Linked DNA regions of Homo sapiens. The protein of the gene in region 1 interacts with the protein of each later gene in a pairwise test. Each region holds a gene or a part of one and is shown on either strand. Other genes may lie near its edges. The genes, in order: CDHR3 and CCT8.

Evidence for each region.
Region 2: the proteins of CDHR3 (region 1) and CCT8 interact in binary tests that used the Homo sapiens proteins (3 or more experiments, as listed by UniProt).

The regions. Positions count from the first base shown.
Region 1 is NC_000007.14:106,015,250-106,019,075, forward strand, and holds part of CDHR3 (cadherin-related family member 3 isoform 1 precursor), read left to right. Parts: intron 1-677; coding exon 678-776; intron 777-2,596; coding exon 2,597-2,823; intron 2,824-3,826. UniProt on the Homo sapiens protein: Cadherins are calcium-dependent cell adhesion proteins.
Region 2 is NC_000021.9:29,066,922-29,070,747, reverse strand, and holds part of CCT8 (T-complex protein 1 subunit theta), read left to right. Parts: intron 1-410; coding exon 411-501; intron 502-1,245; coding exon 1,246-1,325; intron 1,326-3,042; coding exon 3,043-3,192; intron 3,193-3,676; coding exon 3,677-3,826. UniProt on the Homo sapiens protein: Component of the chaperonin-containing T-complex (TRiC), a molecular chaperone complex that assists the folding of actin, tubulin and other proteins upon ATP hydrolysis.

The DNA.
Region 1 (3,826 bases):
CTTGAGTATCAATGACCAAACTCTGCTGGGCAATACTAGGTATTGTGCTAGGTCCCCCTTCTCACTAGTACTGCCCTCATGCGGGGACCCCCTCTTTCTCGGCTGAATTACAACACTTAAGAGTCTTTGAAGGGAAATGCAAATGCCATCATATGACTTCCTTGGTTAAAGCCTTCGAGCATCTCCTGTAGCTGTCAAGTTCAAGTTCCAACTCTTTGACTTGGCATACAAGATTTTTCACCATTCGGTTGCTGCTTAATTCTCCAGCTTCACCTCCTGTCACTTGCTTCCAAGCCCCCATTTTTTTCCAACTGGGCAAACAGCTTGAAGTTTTCCAGAGTGAATTATGTGGTTTTATACCTTGGCATTTTTGCATATGCCTACAACACCCCCCAATCTCCTCCCTGCCCCATTTGTCTAATTCTATCCTTATAAGGCTCAGCTTGTTCATTCTCCTGGAAGCTGTTCCTACTCTGGGTTCTGTAGTGCTCTGTGTGCTCATGCGCTTATCAAAGGGTGAACACCCTCGGCATCTAAAAGGCAGGAGCTCCCATGTCTTAGCCACCTGGTATCCCCTATGCGCAAAGCCTGTACACAGGAGATTCTTTAAAGATGTTGAATAAACAAATGGATGAGTATGGATTTGTGATTAAATGTGTTTCTATTTCCATTTTTAGATAACGTCTACGTTTATATCCTAACAAGCCCAGAAAATGAGTTTCCTCTCATTTTTGATAGGCCATCCTATGTATTTGATGTGTCAGAAAGAAGGCCCGGTAAGTAACAGATAAGACACAGACCAGAGTGCTGTCAATGGACTCCATCCAAACGTGTGTTCTGTGGAGTGGAAAACTCCCTTCTGGAGGCCTCGCATGCTGTTTTGCACAGTGATTCACAGCTGATTAGTATTTATTGCACCTCTTATTTCTTTTAAATTTTCCTCGCTGCTGAGGAGCCCTTCAGGTGAAACTTGGACTTTTGAAAACTGTTGGTTAAACTGCATTTCTCAGAAGCCTCTGATTGCTTCCTTGCCTGTTTGCCTGATTCCGCTAATCCTCCCTTTTCCAGGTTTAAGTTTTCTCTTGGTCTCCACTGTGAGTTTTATCCAGCTCACTCAGAGAATTAAAATTTAAAAACAGAAAAGGTTTCCCATTTCTATATTTCCTTCATTTACAAACAAAATAAAGGCATTTTCTCTCTCCCCTACTAAGATTCCCTGAAGGCCTTCTTTTCTGCCCTTTACAACACCCTGCTTTTTGCAGGCTCCTCCCCCTTTAAGGAAAAGACTCACTCCCCACTTCCAGCTTCACTTTCTGCCTCCCTCTCGCTCTCTCAGTTTGAAGGTAATACTATAAATGCTCTAGTGTAATAGACTCCCCACAGCCGTTCATCTTTAGATCATGGATACTTTTTCCATATTAAAAACAACAACAACAAATGAAACCAAAACCAAAACGCTCCCTCTAAAATGATCCATTCTCTTTAGGATGGTCTCCATTTCCTGACATTAAGTTTTCAAGCAAAATGCAAAATGCAAGTCCAAAGAAAATGCTTTTAATTTCTTATACCTTATCCAGTGAATAACAAATTCGAAAGGAATAGGCTTTCTGGGAATTCACAGATCTTACTGCAGTTCTTTTTGATCACCTACTTTGGGTTACAAACTTAGTGCTGGGATACAGAATTGAAAAAGAGAAGGTTCTGCCCTTGAGGAGTGTAATTTATGAGAAGGAACTCCTACAAAACAAGCCAGAATGCTAGCAGACCCACCAACAATATTTGTAAAAATTGCAAAATGGAAGAGGATTTAAAAATCTATAATCTGTAATCATCAATTACTAAATTCTTTAACAATTATTTATTTTTAAAAGAGCAATTCATGCTCATTATAGAAAATTGAAAAACACGGGACTTTTAGACAATACTGCTGCAAAGAGATGTATGTGTGAGGTTGTATGTTCTTTGTACTATTGTTTCTGATAGCAAAATGATTAGTGTCCCTGGAGCCTATATAAAGGCATAAATTGCTGGGCATGGTGGCTGACGACTATAATCCTAGCACTTTGGGAGGCCGAGCTGGGCGGATCACTTGAGGTCAGGAGATCGAAACCAGCCTGGCCGACATGGTGAAACCCCATCTCTTCTAAAAATACAAAAAGATTAGCCAGGTGTGGTCGTGGGCACCTGTAATCCCAGCTACTTGGGAGGCTGAGGCAGGAGAATTGCTTGAACCCAGGAAGTGGAGGTTGCAATGAGCCGAGATCGCACCACTGCACTCCAGCCTGGGCGACAGAGTGAGACTCCGTCACACACAGACACACACACACACACACACACACACACACACACACACACACACAAAGATATAAATTGTCTATTACACCTCACAGGACTGCTTGGATCATAGGGTCAGTTACCTAGCGGGTGTTGGTTAGCATTATTTCAATTTAGTAGAATTGAAGCTATAAAACAGAGTTTGGACAGCAAGGAGGCCTCCAGAAGTCCTTCTTACCATGGCAGTTAGGACATCTGTTCCTGAATCATCCTTCTCTACCCCTTAAAAGCAGGACTTATTGCAGGTACTTTATTCCTCCAGCCAGAACCCGAGTGGGACAGGTGCGAGCCACTGATAAAGACCTCCCCCAGAGCAGCCTCCTGTACTCCATCTCCACTGGAGGGGCCAGCCTCCAGTATCCAAATGTATTTTGGATTAATCCCAAGACAGGAGAACTCCAGCTGGTAACTAAAGTGGACTGTGAAACAACCCCCATCTATATTCTCAGAATCCAGGCCACCAACAACGAAGACACAAGCTCTGTCACTGTGAGTGGTGCTGCTTGGTATAGTGCCGGTAACCCAACTGGTTGACTTAGGGTCTCTCTGGCACCCCCAGAGTGTGGATGTGGCAATGAGGAAACTTCCCAGGGTACATCCTGCGGATGTGGTGAGAAACAAGTAAAGGTGCCCTGGGAAATAAAGATCCACATTTTTCTTTTTTCGTTTTTGAGGCAGGGTCTCGCTCTGTTGCCCAGGATGGAGTACAGTGGTGTAACCTTGGCTCACTGCAACTTCCACCTCCTGGGCTTAAGCGATTCTCGTGCCTCAGCCTCTCAAGTAGCTGGGATTGCAAGTGTGCACCACCGTGCGCAGCTAATTTTTGTATTTTTAGTAGAGACGGGTTTCTCCATGTTGGCCAGGCTGGTCTCGAACTCCTGACCTCAAGTAATCCACTCGCCTCAGCCTCTCAAAGTGCTAGGATTATAGGCGTGAGCCACTGCACCCAGCCCCATATTTTTTTGAGGCCCAAGTTTGCGGGTGACTGACAAAAGCACTAAAGTTGTTGGCCAGATATTAGAATGTCTGGTGGACCCACAAAGCCACTTTGTGGGACAAGGTTCCTCTTGTGGCCCTGTAAATCTTGCTTTGCCTTCACTGAAGGCTGTTGGTGAAATGCACACTTCCTAGAAGTTGAGTGTGGTTTTGGAGTTATGCATTTCCTCCCCAGGAGCAGTTATGCCGTGTTCCTACCCTGCCTCTATGCATACCAGATGGGGTAGATCTTAAAACGATGCTGTGCTGCTATCTTGCTTCCCAACCTTTGAGGCTGAGAATGTTGTTACAGGCAGATTCTGAGTCAGAGGGTCTGGGGCCTGAGATTCTGCATTTCTGACGTGCTTCCAAGTGGGGCGGCGCTGCTGGTCCCCTGCCACACCTCGAGTTGCAGGGACCTAATAGGTCCATGTTGTCAGTGGTTTGGATTATCCAAGGGCAACATGATAGCCACAAAGACCAAACTATTCCCTGGTCCTTCCCATTAGTAAAGTAA
Region 2 (3,826 bases), on another chromosome or scaffold:
ACTACTTTTAATAAAAAAAATTTTAAGTCTTTTGATGTGTAAGTAGGTACCTGCGGTCCCCCAAAATGTTATACTTTATTCATTCAACTAGAGAGGAAATGTATGCATCATTTATGAATATCAAATGCTGTGTTTTACATTAAAAAATCTTGTTTGATTGTCTCAACAATCCTATGAGTTAGGTACTATTATAATTACTTCATTTTATAATGAAGAAATGTTAAGAAAATTGCCCAAATTTAAAAAGAGCCAGAAAGCTAAGATTTGCAACCAGCCCTCTTGTGCCAAATACCTAAGCTATGCTCCCTCTTTATTAGAGGCAAGATATAAGCAAAGATATCTTGTATTTGAAATTTTTGTTTCACTGTCCTGTCTAATTAGCGGGGTTTTTTGTTTGTTTTTTTTAACAGCACTTTTCAGGATTAGAAGAGGCTGTGTATAGAAACATACAAGCTTGCAAGGAGCTTGCCCAAACCACTCGTACAGCATATGGACCAAATGGTAATTTCTAAATTAATATTTGTAAAGATACAGTAGTAGAATATTGTGTACTACGTCTTCTTTCAGACTTGTTCTGAGGATGTTATGGTATGACTTCGGAAGTTAATTTGATAGCTCAATGATAGTTCATTTCCAATTTTTAGTTATTTCTAATTTTCAATCAACTCACATCTCTTTAGAAAAATGGGGGTCAATATATTACTTTTTATCCTGTTGAGAGGATAGAAAAATTATAACACTTTGACTAGTAAGATAGTACCTAATGTTCATTCTGACAAACACTAAATATAAAAGTGACATAGTTTAAGGAAGAAAATTCTCTCCTTCCTCTTGCCTTCTACCACCAATTAAATTTAAATGATACAGTTTCATGGAATAAACATACAACTAAATATACTAAGTAGATTATTTTGGCCTTTTTACATGTTAATTTCTGTTGAGCACTTGCTGCATGACAGTCATGTTGCAAACAGAAGATAGAAATTGGCAAAAATGTGAGATTTGGCATCTTACGTAGTAAATATTGTAGGACATTAGAAAGGGAAGAAAGAATATGGGTCTGCAGTCAGAGAATGCCCATGGGGCTATAAGATAAACTTGAAGAATAGATAGTATGTGTTTTCTTGCAAAGCTCTTTTTTTAATATACAAATTTATAATTTCTTAACTAGATTTTCCTGGGTATTTGGGGAAGGATTTGATTAATAATGGCTTTCTTTTTCTTTTTTTAACTGTTACTTTTGAGGAATGAACAAAATGGTTATCAACCACTTGGAGAAGTTGTTTGTGACAAACGATGCAGCAACTATTTTAAGAGAACTAGAAGTAAGTTGTTTCTTTAAAAAGTCAAGAAATATTTTGGTGACATCAAAATTAAGTAGATTTTAACTAGAAGAAATCTCTTATTTCAGATTGGATAAGGGACTATTTTTCCAGCTTGAAAATTTATTGTACAGATTGTTCTAATTATAAAGAGTCCTCTTTAGATTGAATGTTTTAGCCACTGAAATCTTAAAAATCTCTCAAGTTATTAATTTATGGAGGGATTGGTTGTGATACATTGCTAATTACGATATGAAATTGATTACCATTGTCTTCATTCTATAGGGTGACTCTGAAGTGAATTATTCCACAGTGCAAAAACGTATACATATAACAGTGGTTTTTAAAAAGATCCAACCATTTGGTTTTGTGAAAATAAAAACAATCAGTTGATGGCATTTTACTTTGTTCAGCTTTAGTTTTACTATTAGAATCTATAAAATAGATACTGCCTGCCAGCAGGGTTATAAGGAAGGTCTGGCACCTGAACAGGCAGAGAGAGCCATTCCTCATTCCCGCCTTGTAATTAAAGGATAACATATTCAACCTCAGGGAATTTTCCTGAAGCTTAGCCCTTGAAAGCACTAGAACTTAATCTTTTGTTTTAAATGAAACGATAGAAGAATCAACATTTTTCTAACCTCTTAAATAATATATTTTTGGTTGGACGCGGTGGCTCACGCCTGTAATCCCACCACTTTGGGAGGTCAAGGCAGGCGGATCACCTAAGGTCAGGAGTTTGAGACTAGCCTGGCCAACATGGTGAAACCCCATCTCTACTAAAAATACAGAAACAAAATCAGCCGGGCGTGGTGGCACACACCTGTAGTTCCAGCTACTCAGTAGGCTAGGGCAGGAGAATTGCTTGAACCTGGGAGGCGGAGGTTGCAATGAGCCAAGATCGCGCCACTGCACTCCAGCCTGGGCGACAGAGCAAGACTCCATCTCAAAAAAGAAAAAAAAATACATATTATATATATAAATTCTTAAAGAACTTAAGTTAAAAGTTAAATTTTAACTCCACAAAACACTTGTACAAGGGTTTGTCACTGTGAATGTTAATGTTGCACACTGATGATCTCAGGAGTTATTAAAGTACAGTGGTGATACCGTCAAAATAATAAAATCACAGGGCTGACTTTTTATAGTTTTCTTGTTGCTCTCAGTTCTTACTCCTTGGCTTGTTTCTGTAAAGGTATCTAAAATTAAATCCTAAGAATAAAATCCACATAAAATTATGTTATATTTGAAGAAAAGTTTTATACTCCCCCTTTTCTTTAAATCACAAATGATAACCCTTACAACAAGAATATATAGTAAAATAGATATTGAGAGTCATGACCAAGTTAAGTGGTATCTATTTTAGTTCTCCTGAAGGCTTTTAAAAAATATCTAGGTTTGGTGGTTGTAATTACTTTGTTTTTTAATTTAGTGAAATATGATATGGTGAAACATATGTGTGGCACTGTATGTGCAGGCCACCAAAAGAGGATGCACTTTGAAATTCTTATTTATAGTGATACATTTGTGCTGATCGGCATAAAGGGACTTGGATTTTTTCTTGTGACCACACTATAAGTAGCGTATAGCAGTGTAGCAGTGTGATCAGATGGAGTTACCTAATCTACAAGAAAATTGAGTCTATTTAAGAAATGGAAATGAACAATTTTATGTTGCTTTAAGGATCAGATGTTTAACTTGATATTACCTTTTCTACTAGGTACAGCATCCTGCTGCAAAAATGATTGTAATGGCTTCTCATATGCAAGAGCAAGAAGTTGGAGATGGCACAAACTTTGTTCTGGTATTTGCTGGAGCTCTCCTGGAATTAGCTGAAGAACTTCTGAGGATTGGCCTGTCAGTTTCAGAGGCAAGTGTTCATTTATAATTTACTCCTACTAAATTTTTGCTTACATATACACCTGCTTAAAACATAAACTAAAATCATTATTATAGTAGTAGCTAACATGCACTGAGCAGTTTGCTCTGTACCAGCCATTATAGTACATATGCTTCACATGCTGTATCATTTTAGTCTCACAAAAACCCTATTAGTGAGGCCTTATAATCCCATTTTATCTATTTTTTTTCCCACTTTATTTTAGATGAGAAAAGAGACTAAAATTAGAAAAATCTTGCCCAAGATCTCATAGCTAGTGAGTTAGGTAGAGTTAAGATTCAAATTTGGGCTGTCATCTAAGCCTCCATTCATAACTAGTAGAGTCTACTATATGTTTTATTCCGAAGTATATTCTTTGTCATTTTGTATCAAAAATAAACATCCATATGCATTGGGTTACCAAAATAAGCTACTTTAAGTCATGTCAGAATAGGAAATGTTGTTTATGTTTTAGGTCATAGAAGGTTATGAAATAGCCTGCAGAAAAGCTCATGAGATTCTTCCTAATTTGGTATGTTGTTCTGCAAAAAACCTTCGAGATATTGATGAAGTCTCATCTCTACTTCGTACCTCCATAATGAGTAAACAATATGGTAATGAAGTA